Linked DNA regions of Homo sapiens. The protein of the gene in region 1 purifies or fractionates together with the protein of each later gene. This does not show direct contact. Each region holds a gene or a part of one and is shown on either strand. Other genes may lie near its edges.

The links. Proteins that work in one complex are often made in the same cells at the same time.
Region 2: the proteins of WWC2 (region 1) and LATS1 purify together in Homo sapiens (affinity purification with western blotting, with the first as the bait; one study listed by BioGRID). This does not show direct contact.
Region 3: the proteins of WWC2 (region 1) and INAVA purify together in Homo sapiens (co-immunoprecipitation; one large-scale study listed by IntAct). This does not show direct contact.
Region 4: the proteins of WWC2 (region 1) and LATS2 purify together in Homo sapiens (affinity purification with western blotting, with the first as the bait; one study listed by BioGRID). This does not show direct contact.

Annotation. Positions count from the first base shown.
Region 1 is NC_000004.12:183,097,998-183,102,056, reverse strand, and holds the start of WWC2 (protein WWC2), read right to left. Parts: upstream 2,801-4,059; 5' UTR 2,566-2,800; coding exon 2,435-2,565; intron 1-2,434. UniProt on the Homo sapiens protein: Regulator of the Hippo signaling pathway, also known as the Salvador-Warts-Hippo (SWH) pathway.
Region 2 is NC_000006.12:149,708,102-149,711,601, reverse strand, and holds part of LATS1 (serine/threonine-protein kinase LATS1), read left to right. Parts: intron 1-3,500. UniProt on the Homo sapiens protein: Negative regulator of YAP1 in the Hippo signaling pathway that plays a pivotal role in organ size control and tumor suppression by restricting proliferation and promoting apoptosis.
Region 3 is NC_000001.11:200,911,900-200,914,070, reverse strand, and holds part of INAVA (innate immunity activator protein), read right to left. Parts: coding exon 1,934-2,171; intron 535-1,933; coding exon 442-534; 3' UTR 1-441. UniProt on the Homo sapiens protein: Expressed in peripheral macrophages and intestinal myeloid-derived cells, is required for optimal PRR (pattern recognition receptor)-induced signaling, cytokine secretion, and bacterial clearance.
Region 4 is NC_000013.11:20,981,587-20,985,086, reverse strand, and holds part of LATS2 (serine/threonine-protein kinase LATS2), read left to right. Parts: intron 1-1,280; coding exon 1,281-1,863; intron 1,864-3,438; coding exon 3,439-3,500. UniProt on the Homo sapiens protein: Negative regulator of YAP1 in the Hippo signaling pathway that plays a pivotal role in organ size control and tumor suppression by restricting proliferation and promoting apoptosis.

The sequences.
Region 1 (4,059 bases):
ATTCTGGCATGACTACCTGTTGAATGAAATTATGTTCTTATAAAATGCCCTAGCCTCCCCTACTAAATCGGCATAATTATCTGTATAATCAGAAATATTCAACAAATTCTGATAGACTATCAAAAACACAAAATTCTTTTCCTTAACAGAATAACATAAAAAATATGCAAGGTAAATCATCGTGACCATTCTAATTAAATGGCTTAAACAGTTCAAAAGTACTGCAGACCCATAGTATATCAAGTTGTTTTTCTTTCAGAATTTGTAAGTTGATCCTGCAGAAGAATCCACACACTCCTATTGGCCTGTGTAACATCTCTCTTTCCATATGTTTGGTAAGTGTGTAACAAAACTGACAGGAGTTAATAGTTACTCCAAATATACGTTCCCATCAGCTCTTACTCTATTTAGTAAGATTTAGTCACTTAATTGCCCTAAAAGAAAATATAATCAAATTTAAACTGAGTATATAATGGTGACTCTGATCTCAACAGAGTATCTTTTAAAACTCTGAGATCCAGAAATATTTGTAAGTCGTCAAATTTATGTCTCTGAATATTTAAGACCTAACAGCTGCAAGGAAAATTGGAAAAATAAAAAGCTATCTTAGTCAAAACTATTTGTCCCTATCCAATGAATTGTTTATCCAGTTTCCTGAAAATAGTTCATAATAATTACTAATCCATTAAGAGTTTAAAATAAAGGACATGCTTGACTTGTGAAAAAAGTAGTGATATGGATAGCCAAGTCATATAATTTCACTCCACTTTCTATTTACTTTACCCAGACATTACATATTCTTGTAATCCTTTCCGGTAAACACAACTGAGATAATATAGTAAAGCATGTAAACCGAAGAAGAGAACCTAGAATGCCTAAATATTTCAAGAATTTATTGTTATTTCAATTACCTGAAACTCCAAGTATCAGAAAGCAGAAAGAATTACCACACAACTGTAAAAGTCAAATATTTATACAGGTGCCTTAAAAGCCGCAGTTGGGTGCACACCATCAGCACTGACATTTACTATCTGTTAAGTAGTTTCAAAGTGCAATAGCATAAGTCAAATAACTGGCTTGGAGCGTGAAGTTTATGACAACAACTAGCACGTCTGGAGACACTGGGAAGGTGTGATGCCTGTCACAATTTTCATCAGGCCAGCAACAGGCAGCCAGGCTGCGGCAAGACCGAACCTCAGCACAGGTGCCTTTTCTCATTTCAGGAGGGAAACCTAGGCCCGTAGCTTCACGGATAATTGAACAAGGATTGTTCCATAAATTTATAATGTTATTTATAACTTTCTTGTAATTGCCTTTTAGTAGCTTTCAAAAACAACATTTTTAGGGCAAAAGTAACTGAGATTATAAAGTAGTTAGGTATTTCAGCTTCAAATTGAGAAAAGGGAAAATGTTAAATAGGAGAAGCACCTAAAAAGTATATAAAGCCCAAAGGGCCACATTCAATAAAGTTATAATTTTCAGAAATGACAAAAGTCCAAATGTCGAAGTTATCCCTGGTGGCACGTTATTTAAATTTACAATTAGGAATATCTCCTTAATGGATAATTTACAAATTTATAATTAGGAATACCTCCTATTATTCTTACAATAATTCTAAGAAATTTTAAGGGTAAAAAAAATATGGGACACAGAAACATTTGTGAACCTTCAGTTCCTGAACCAATTTAAAAAACAAAAAACAAAGAAACCAGGCTAAGCTCAAATCAGAGTGCCTCAATACCCAACGTTAATTTCACTACATCTCCCTTCCAAACACAATATGCCTGTTCCCGATCTGGGAGTCGGTTCAAGTTTTCAGGTGAAGACTAACGACAGACAGCGAAACCCCCAAACGCGCGTTTTTAAACTCTGAGGGGCAAAGTCAGTCACACCCACTAGCAGGGCCCGGCGGGGGGCGGGAGCCCCTTCCCAGCTCGGGACCTCCGGCCAGTCTGGGCGCCCCCGCCAAGAGCTCGCAGCCCAGGCTCCCGCGCCAAGGACGGCCTGAGGGATGCCACAGGTGGCCCGGAGGGCTCGTTCCCCAACTGGCAGTGAGGCCCTAGCCCACCCCCGCCGCCCAGAGGCCGAAGGTGTCCTGCAGCCTCCACGTGGGCACCTCGAAGCCTAGGGAAGTTCCTAACAGGGCTCAGGTGGCCCCTCGGGTCCGTTAGCCTGGCGCGCGGCGTCGGCCCGGGGCAGCGACTCCAGCCTTGCCTCGGGGCCGGGTCCCCGGAGGGGCGTCGGGAAGCCGGTGGGCGGAGGAGCCCGGGTACGGGCGGCTCCTCGGCCCCGCCGGAGCAGCCAGCCCCACATCCCTCCCGGGACCCCTCGGGGCACCGCGGGCCGGCGCCGCCCCAGCCCCCCGCGCGGCCGGGTCTCCGGGACAACAGCCGCCGTGTCCGAACGGGCCCGCGCCCCCGCGGCCGGCGCCCACCTGTCCCGGGGGTCGATCCAGCTGGTCCTCCTGGTGTTGTGGTCAATGTAGAAGACCTTGCCGTCGTAGTCCCTGGCCTCCTCCCAGCCCCGGGGCAGCGGCAGCTGACCGCTCCCGGCCCTCCTAGGCATGGTCGGCGGCCTCGCCGGCGAGCGGCGCCTCCATAGGTACCGGGCGCGGGACGCGGCGGGAACGCGGCTGCCGGGCTAGGCTGCCAACCCGCGACGCGGGCGCCGGCGAGGGGCTGAGGGGCGCAGGGCGCGGGGCGCGGCGGAACCACGCGCGGGAGGTGCCTCAGGAAACGCTGTTCGCGGCCCCGCTGCGGATCAGTCCACCATGTCTGCGTCGGAGCCGGCGAGCGAACCCTCCTCCCCCTCGCCGCCGCTGCCTCCGCCTCTTCCTCCTCCTCCGCCCCGTCCCCCTCTGGCCGCCGAGGGTCGCGGCGCCCAGGCTGCCGGAGCCGCCGCCGTCTGGGCTCGGATCCGGGAAGCTGCGGCGCTGCCGCGGCAGCGGCGGGCCCCTCATTTGCATGCGATTAGCATGCGCCCGCCCGCCTCATCTGCATGCGCATTCCTCGCGCCGCATTCCTGAGCTTAACCCCGCCGCTGCCGGCGTCGCCGCACCAGCTCGGACGCACTGCCCCGCGGGGCCGCGGCTCCAGGTGGGAGGAAGGCGGGCGAAGGAATGTGCGGCCAGCTCCCTCCCCTTGACCCCAGATAGCTCCCCTGGGCCAAACGCCGAGAGGTTTTAGAGTTTCTGGACGGGGAAGATTGCAAAAGTCTCCGCAACCTTCTCAACCTCTTTCGTCTTCTAGGGAAACCACAAAACTTTCGAGAGGAAAGGGGTGGCGGGCGGGGAGCTCTCCTCCGGAGAAAAAACCTCAACAAGCGGAGAGGGCACAAAGGCTCCCCACGCCGCGCCCCGAGCCCCTCCGGCACCCCAAGGGCGGTCCGGGGTGGTGGGAAAGCGCCAAGCCCTGGGAGTGCGTCGGTGGGTCCGGGACGGCGGGGCCTCCGCCAGGGCTCCTGGCCCTCGATGACCTCGGCTGAGACCGCGAGCCGCGCGGCGGAAAGCGGAGGAACTCCCGTCCGGCCCTGTAGCCGCCCGCACCGCGCCCCGTCACCCGCCGCCCCTTCGCGTCCGGGCGCTCCAGCCGCGGGGCCCCGGAAGCTCCTGGTCCCTGGCCTCCCCTGCTTGGTTCGGGGCGGTTGGCCGTGGACGCGCCCCGACTCTAGTCCCTTCCGTCCAGCCGCCCGCCCCAGGATGTCCCCCCACCGCAGCCCCGCCGTGGCCAGGAGGTGTGGGCGGCCACGCCGGAGGGACCCACGGCGGCGCCGGACGCCCGCCCTTCCTAGGCCCTGGCCCGGCCGGGGTGGGCCGGGACGTTCCCTGTTGCATAGGCATTTATTTATTCAGCAGCTACTACGTACGTGCTGGCCCGCACTGCCGAGGGACCGGACGCCTGCCCCAGGCGGGACAATGCCGGGTGCAGCGCTGGCGGGGCCTGGACGCCAAGCTTCAGGGTCCCCAGCCCCTCAGTCAGAGGGGGCGCCTCCCAGGCCCTGGACTCCTCTCCAGCCGGGTCTACACCACCGTCCCCCGTCATCTTCTTCTGGGTTACTGAG
Region 2 (3,500 bases), on another chromosome or scaffold:
GATTTTTTTAGTATGAACTTGAGATGATTTAAGAAAAAAAAATTTCATTTTGTTTTTTGAGATGGAGTCTCACCCTGTCACCCAGGCTAGAGTGCAGTGGCACAATCTCCGCTCACTGCAACCTCCGCCTCCCAGGTTCAAGCAATTCTTCTGCCTCAGCCTCCTGAGTAGCTGGGACTACAGGCACATGCCACCACGCCCAGCTAATTTTTGTATTTTTTAGTAGAGATGAGGTTTCACCTTATTGGCCAGGCTGGTCTCAAACTCCTGACCTCGTGATCCGCCTGTCTCGGCCTCCCAAAGTGCTGGAATTACAGGTGTGAGGCACCGTGCCCGGCCAAAAGATATTTTTTTTTTTTTTAACAAAACAGTTTCTTTAAAGTTAGTAAGCCTCTTCCGATCTGTTTGGTTTCCTTCAGTTCTATGTGTCAGTAACCACAGTCGAAGTTCACATGTATTGGTAAACTCATCCAAAGATTTAAGAGCGTCTATTCCTCCTCCTCTCATTTGGTTGTTTGAGGCTATTAGGTTTGATGGGAAGGCTACGTCTTTAATATGGTCTTAACCACAGAAGCACTAGTTAGCTAAGGGGTTTCAGTGGGCATCTGTGCTCAGTCTTTTAATCCTGCCTCTAGGGGTCTAGGTACAAGCTGCTTTTCCAATCCTTCAAGGCTTTAAATTTCTGAACTTTTTCTATTCTCTTCTGTTTTTGCTTTCAAATCTACTACTTCCTTCTTGAACTCATCATTTACTTATAATACTTGCCAAATATCTAATAGCAGCCAATACTCACTTCCAAAATCCTCTTTACCAAACTCCTATAACACTACAAGGTCAGTAGCCTCTTTGTATGTTCACTGACCTTGTAGTTGTATGAAAAGTTATTATAGGCAACAGCGTTACCAGATATTTTGCCACTATAAAACATGATCCTCCATCTTTCCAGCCTCCGGTATCTGTTTCCTCTCAGCCCTTAATCTGACCACTAAGGCAGTATCACTAAGGCAGGACTGCATAGGTTTTTATTGTAGCAGCACCTCACTTCCAGGTACCAGTTTTCTGTATTAGGATAATGAAACACTGAATATACAGATGGACAATGGCCAGATCATATATAAAACTAGAACTCTGACCCATGACCTATGTAGCAATAGGCCCAGTCAGGACTTGGTCAGTAATTACCAGCTTCCCTAATTTTTGTGCCTTCTTCCAATTCGGGACGACTCAGAGAAAGCCAAATATGCTTCCCAAATCAACCACATAGGATACCCCGCTTCCAGTGTCGACGAAGAGTCAAACTCTGTAAAATATTTTAAGAGATCTATTCTAAGCCAAATATGAATGGCTATTGCCCCATGACACAGCCCTCAGGAGCTCCTGAGAACATGTGCCCAAGGTGATCAGACTACAGCTTGGTTTTATACATTTTAGGGAGACATAAGACATCAATCAGTATATGTAAGATGTACATTGGTTAGGTCCAGAAAGGAAGACACCTTGAAGCAGATGGCTTCCAGGTCATAGGTAGATTCACAGATTTTCTGATTGGCAGTTGGTCGAAAGAGTTGTTACTGTCTAAAGACCTAGAATCAATAGAAGGGAGTATCTAGGTTAAGATAAGGGGTTGTGGGCAGGCACAGTGGCTCACGCCTGTAATCCCAACACCTTGGGAGGCCGAGGCAGGTGGATCACGAGGTCAGGAGTTCAAGACCAGCTTGGCCAACATAGTGAAACCCCATCTCTACTAAAAATACAAAAATTAGCGAGGCATGGTAGCGCACGCCTGTAATCCCAGCTACTCAGGAGGCTGAGGCAGGAGAATCACTTGAAACCGGGAGGCGGAGATTGTGGTGAGCCAAGATCAAGCCACTGCATTCCAACCTGGGCAACAGAGTGAGACTCCATCTAAAAAAAAAAAAAAAAAAAAAAAAAAGATAAGGGGTTGTGGAGACCAGGGTTCCCATTATGCAGATAGAATCAATAGGAAGGAATGTCTGAGCCAAGGTAAGGGGTTGTGGAGACCAAAGTTCCCATTATGTAAAGGAAGCCTCCAGGTGGCAGGCTTCAGAGATAATACATTGTAAATGTTTCTTATCAGGGTTGATTCTCTCCTGGATCAGGCAAAAGGCCTGAGAAAGGAAGGGAATTAACTTCAGAATGTAGATTTTCCGCACAAGAGACAGCTTTGCAGGACTGTTTGAAGATATGGCAAAGAAACATAATTTGGGGTCAAATACTTGGATTTCTTTCAGGGCCTGCCATCTGTCATGTGATACTATGCTAGAGTCAGGCTGGAATTGGGTATCTTATTGCTACAGAGAGTCTGTTTTGTCAGTCTTAAGATTTGTTTTAATGTTAGTGCTGGTCAGCTGTGCCTGAATTCCAACAGGGAGGAGGGAATAATGAGGTATGGCCAAACTCCGCTTCCCATCATGGCTGGAACTAGTTTTTCAGGTTAACTTTCAAATGCTCTTGGCTGGGAGGAGGGGTTCATTCAGATGGTTGAAGGACTTAGAATTTTATTTTTGGTTTACATCAGTTAGCCCACCTCCAGTTTCCCATGCCAACAACCTACAATCAGAGCATACCTGATGTCTTCCCCCTTTTTTTAGTATAAAGATTTCCCACTCCCCTGCTTGCCTTTGAATCTTTGCCAAGCACAAGTTGACAGTGGCTGACTCCCTACCTATATAGTAAGATCTAATTAAATAGCCTTTGTTTGTTTCCATTTGGGCAGTCTTTGTCTATTTTCACAATGTTATTAGGCTGTTTTGTGGTAACAAATCCCCAAATATCAATGGCTTAACACAACAGAAATGTTTCTCTTGCTCAGAGTTCAGTGGGAGTCAGTAGGGTTCTCCATCCAGTGGCTTAGGGATCCACCTTCCTTCCATATTGTCAAGCCACCATCTCAGAATGTAACCTACATTGTCATTAAAGCAGGAAAACCGAAGCAAAGTGACTTTTAACTGCCTCAGTCCAGAATTGAGATATGTTACATCTGCTCATCCAGCTTTGGCCAAATCTGGGAAATGGAGTCGAGTACTGTATGTGAATATAGTCTCTGCCAGAATATATTTACCAAAAGCAATTGGCTAAAGATATACACAATTCCTCCATTTCAGCGTTTTTGAGATCAGAAGATTTAGATTATCTTACAATTGAAATTTTTTTTTTTTTTTTTTTTGAGATCCAGTCTCGCTCTGTCGCCCAGGCTGGAGTGCAGTGGTGCAGTCTCGGCTCACTGCAACCTCTGCCTCTGTGGTTCAAGCGATTCTCCTGCCTCAGCCTTCCGAGTAGCTGGGACTACAGGTGCCTGCCACCACGCTCGGCTAATTTTTGTGTTTTTAGTAGAGACGGGGTTTCACCATATTGACCAGGGTGGTCTTGTACAATTAAAATTGAAATGAATATTCAAATGTAATGCTTCTGTTATTTCCCCTGATAAATGAAGTGACATTGTTTCATGGAAATAATAGTTTCTTTAAAATGAATCCTGT
Region 3 (2,171 bases), on another chromosome or scaffold:
TGAGTATGTACCATGTCCAGCCTCCAGCAATAGTGGGACAGGAGGGCCAGGGGCAGTTCCCCAGGGAATTTCTTAGAACCAGAGCACAGAGCGTTGGAGAACTCCCAAGGTGGCTCACTCTGCTTCACTCGTCCCCTGCCACTTGTCTTATATAAGGAGATAGAGGCTGTCAGTCAGACAGGCAAGGCCTTAAGTCCAGTAGGCCAAACTCTGGGGGATAAAACATAATCATATCACAGGGGTATTGAGGACAATCCACATATATAAATCCTTAGGTCAGGGCTTCTGAAAAAAGTCGTGTAAAAAAAAAATAATAAAAGGTCTCAGCTCCAGGTCATCGGCCTGCGATGGGGATGGGGGAGCTGAAAGAGGCACTCAGGGGTGGGGGGGTCTCAGCCCAGCCCCTCTATGAAACAGTTTTTTCCAGCGTGGGGCGCAGAGTTACACCTGGCTGATGATCTCTCCTTTTTCAGGTACAAAGACTTGCACAGGGGCCCCATCAGGCGATCTCCGCAGCACACAAACTGTGGGCACCTGCCAGGGTCAGGAAGAAAGGACAGGTGGGTAAATGAACCAGGCAGAAAAGCGGGGACAGCAGGCACAGTTACACCATCCTTATCCCTTAGGGACACTGACCAGCAGAAGCAGCAGCAGCAGCAGGCCCTGGCACTCAGCCCCTTCCTCCCAGGATGCTCTCTGTTCTTCAGGGACCCCCTTTACACATTTTCCTCCATGTTCTTTTGGGGTGTGACAGGCGCCCTGACCTCCTCCTCCCCCACCTTTCCTGGGCTCACTTCTCATCACCCTCCCTGTCTGGCACGTTGGGATGGGCTGGGTCTATCCAGCCAAGGACAGGCCCAAGCGCGCAGAAAGGGAAAAGCACGTCAGCTGGAGGGCGCGGCCTCGGACCGGGGCCAGGGTGCTGCCAGGCCCAGGATGCCAGCTGCAGTCCAAAGAACCGTGGGTGGGGGAGGGACACGCAGCTGGGTCTGCTGGGAATCTGGGGTCTCAAAGAAGCAGCTTGTTGGTAACTTCTGGAGCACATCACCTGCAGAGCCCTCCGTACCAGGGAGAAAGAATAAAGAAAGGATTCCTGTGTGTGGCTCCCCACTTCCAGAATGAAGAAATAGGGGCCAAGGAAACCAAGGCTGCCACCCTACCCAGTGTCAGGGTGCTCTATCCTATATACTACCCTCCAGCCTGCTCCCTGGCCTCTGTGGCCCCAGATGATAATAATATCACATATCTAGCGCTTACCATGCATTGCTCTAATCATTTCAGCCTCTTGGCAGCCCTATGAGATAGGTACTCTACTACTCTCATTTCACAGGGGAGGAAACACTAGGTCCAAAGGGGTTAAGTAACTTGCCCAATCATACAGCTCGTAAGTGGCAGAACTGGGATTTGAACCTGGTGGTCTAGCTTGAGGGTGGGTGCTCTTAACTCTGATGCCACCCTTCTTCTCGGCTTGGTGGTGAGGAGGGGTGTCAGGGAGGATGCTGATGCCCAGAAAATCACAGGTTCTGGCTTCTGCAACTCATTTCCTACTCTCCCTTTGTCCTAGACCTTCAAATGGAAATCTGAGGGGCTGATTTGGACTGGACTTTTGATTATGAAGAGGCTTATCTGCTTTGTGCATCATCATTTAGGGAGAGAAAAAGTCTCAGCTATCTTCGGGGATCATCTCCACCAGTGTATATGCTCTTGAGCTAGACATGGCAGGCAAAATTAGGAGGTGCCCCAGGGAAGCCAAGAGTGCCTTCCAAAGCCAAGAGGAAATGATTTTTTGGCCTGTTCTTCCTAGACGGGGATTACCCGGCCACTAGGTTGCTGCTTTGATGCCTCTGTACCCTTGGACATACTAGAATTGCAGCCCCTCCCCAACAAAACAGCCCTCCTGCCTGGCCCCGGGGTCCCTCCAGAGCAGCCGTACCTGTGCCCGGGGTCCCAGGGCTCGTCCGAAGCCCTCTCTCCCAAGGGGCAGGCTCCTGACCCGGAAAGCTCCTTGGCGGTCCAGTGAGTGGGGGCGGGTGCTCCGGAGGCGTGCACGCTCGTGCCACCACTTGAGCTCCTCGGACACGGCGGCCTTGCTGAGCCCCCGGCCTGCCGGGCTGTCCTTCAGGGAGGGCGTCCGCACGATGCGGCTGCGGGAGGGCACCAGACGCTGGTAG
Region 4 (3,500 bases), on another chromosome or scaffold:
CATATGGATATCTAGTTTTCCCAGCATGTCTCTTTTTCAGTGTACATTCTTGGCACCGTTGTCAAAAATCAGGTGGCTGTAAATACGTGGACTTATTTCTGGGTTCTCTATTCTGTTCCATTGGTCTATGTGTCTGTTTTTATACCAATACCATGCAGTTTCAGTTACTCTAGGCTTGTAACATATTTTGAAGTCAGGTAACAATTTTGTTCTTTTTGCCTAGGATTGCTTTGAGTATTTGGGCTCCCTGTGAATTTTAGTATTGTTTTTTCTAGTAATGTGAAAAATATCATTGGTATTTTGATAGGGATTGCATTTAATTGGTAGATTGATTTGGGTAGTATGGTCATTTTAACAATATTAAATCTTTCTGTCGGTGAACATGGGATCTCTTTTCATTTGTTTGTGTCCTCTTTAGTTTCTTTCTTCAGTGTTTTGTAGTTTTCTTTGTAGAGCTCTTTCACTTTTTGGTTAAATTTACTCCTAGATTTTTTTTATAGCTGTTGTAAATGGCATTCATTATTGGTGTACAGAAATCCAGATATCCATATGCAGAAGAATGAAACTAGACCCTATCTCTCACCATATACAAGTCTATCTAATGTATGCTACTGATTTTTGTATGCTGATTGTTGACTTTTCTTCCTGCTTTCCCATTTTCCCTGAGTTACTGAAAGATTAGATGGCTCTTGGAGTTCTAGGAATGCTGTGGTCCCCTTTTCCACAGATTTGTGTTAATAGAAGTTTCCCTTAGTTTTTAGAGCCAAAAGTATCCTAGAGAAAGAACTTTCTTTTTTATCTTAACTTTTCATTCCATATTCATGTCTATATATGGATATAAAAAAACAAAACTGGCCGGGCACAGTGGCTCAAGCCTGTAATCCCTGCACTTTGGGAGGCCAAGGTGGGCAGATCACCTGAGGTCAGGAGTTCAAGACCAGCCTGGCCAACATGATGAAACGCTGTTTCTACTAAAAATACAAAAATTAGCCAGGTGTCATGGTGGCGGGCACATGTAGTCCCAGCTACTCGGGAGGCTGAGACAGCAGAATCGCTGGAACCCAGGAGGCGGAGGCTGCAGTGAGCTGAGATTGTGCCACTGCACTCCAGCCTAGGCGACAGAGCGAGACTCTGTAGTATATGAGACCCATTCTTCTCTGTTCTCCTTTCTGTAAAATGAGCTAGGTTCCTCTCAGTTCCAGGGCATCCCCATCCCAGTCATTTGTTATCATGGGACTTCTCTAATGTGATTCTTCCTCCTTCCTTTTCCTTCTACACAGGCTGGACTCTGTGAAGCTGAGCAGGAGCAGATGCGGAAGATCCTCTACCAGAAAGAGTCTAATTACAACAGGTTAAAGAGGGCCAAGATGGACAAGTCTATGTTTGTCAAGATCAAAACCCTGGGGATCGGTGCCTTTGGAGAAGTGTGCCTTGCTTGTAAGGTGGACACTCACGCCCTGTACGCCATGAAGACCCTAAGGAAAAAGGATGTCCTGAACCGGAATCAGGTGGCCCACGTCAAGGCCGAGAGGGACATCCTGGCCGAGGCAGACAATGAGTGGGTGGTCAAACTCTACTACTCCTTCCAAGACAAAGACAGCCTGTACTTTGTGATGGACTACATCCCTGGTGGGGACATGATGAGCCTGCTGATCCGGATGGAGGTCTTCCCTGAGCACCTGGCCCGGTTCTACATCGCAGAGCTGACTTTGGCCATTGAGAGTGTCCACAAGATGGGCTTCATCCACCGAGACATCAAGCCTGATAACATTTTGATAGATCTGGATGGTCACATTAAACTCACAGATTTCGGCCTCTGCACTGGGTTCAGGTGGACTCACAATTCCAAATATTACCAGAAAGGTATTGTCTGAAGTGTGCCACATGCACTTTCTATGTGTAGATGTCACTAACCCCATTGCAAGCAACTAAATTTCCCATCCTAGTGGCTCCTAATCATTTTGAAATTTTTATCTGTCACTCCATTATTTTATAAATTGGTGTGACATCCTTCCCTTCCAAAAGGAATAGTGTGATATGCATTTTTTTTTAAGGTAGTGGATTTCAGGTTTACTTTTTTTTTTTTTTTTTTTTGAGACAGAGTTTCGCTCTTGTTGCCCAGGCTGGAGTGCAATGGCGTGATCTCGGCTCACTGCAACCTCTGCCTCCTGGGTTCAAGTGATTCTCCTGCCTCCAGCCTCCCGAGTAGCCGGGATTACAGTCACGCACCACCACCTCTGGCTAATTTTGTATTTTTAGTAGAGACGGGGTTTCTCCGTGTTGGTCAGGCTGGTCTCAAACTCCCAACCTCAGGTGATCCGCCTGCCTCCGCCTCCCAAAGTGCTGGGATTACAGGTGTGAGCCACCGTGCCTGGCCTACTATATTTTTAAGACAGTAGGCTACAAGGTGTCACGGGGCCTTTGTGGGGAACCATCACCTGCCTCATTAAAGCAAGCCTTAAAAAATAAAAGATTTGGCTGGGCATGGTGGCTCACGCCTGTAATCCTAGCACTTTGAAAGCCCAAGGTGGGCGGATCACCTGGGGTCAGGAGTTCGAGACCAGCCTGACCAACGTGGAGAAACCCCGTCTCTACTAAAAATAACAAAATTAGCCGGGCGTGGTGATGCATGCCAGTAATCCCAGCTACTGGGAGGCTGAGGCATGAGAATCGCTTGAACCCGGGAAGCAGAGGTTGCGGTGAGCTGAGATCGCGCCATTGCGCCCCAGCCTGGGCAACAAGAGCGAAACTCTGTCTCAAATAAAATAAAATAAATAAAAGAGTCACAGCCTCCCAAGGAGCCCTCTCTTATAGCCAACCTGCATCTATGTAGTGTATCATTGAACTCCATTTCCTATAGTTCTGCCATTTGGAAAAGCCAAAAACAGCTGATTATTATCTTCTTTATGGCTGAGATTCTTGAAGTAGTTATTTTAATATCATCACTTAGTCTTTTTTCTCTAACTCAAAACTAACTCTAAATCATTTAATTCATTCTCATTTTCTGGCATTGAAGTAACCTTTGTTCATGTTGTTTAAATCCTCCTAAGTTTTCCATGCTCATCTTAAAACATGTGTCAGGCAGTTGTTACCTTTTGATTATGGCCTAAGCGCTAGGAGTGCTGTCCCCGCAGTTCTTCCAGCCTCTCCTGCCTGCAGTGCCTTCCTGCCAGCTCAGCACGGTGCATGGTGTCCTGTGATTCTTCACCGTCATTTCTACCTTGGTGCTAGCGCCAACCTCACCACGTGTGTCTCCAAACTAGGAACAGCAGGCTGCCCCTATGGAGCAGCTCAGCGGGGATTCTCTGTCCTGATATGTCAGGAGCTGATTGGAATGACTTTGCTGTTTTAAGCTGTGGATCTGTTGAGTTATTGAAGAGTGAAAATTCACTTTATATTTTGTTCTTTTCTTTCACTATCCCTGATTCCTGGGTGAAGGGAGCCATGTCAGACAGGACAGCATGGAGCCCAGCGACCTCTGGGATGATGTGTCTAACTGT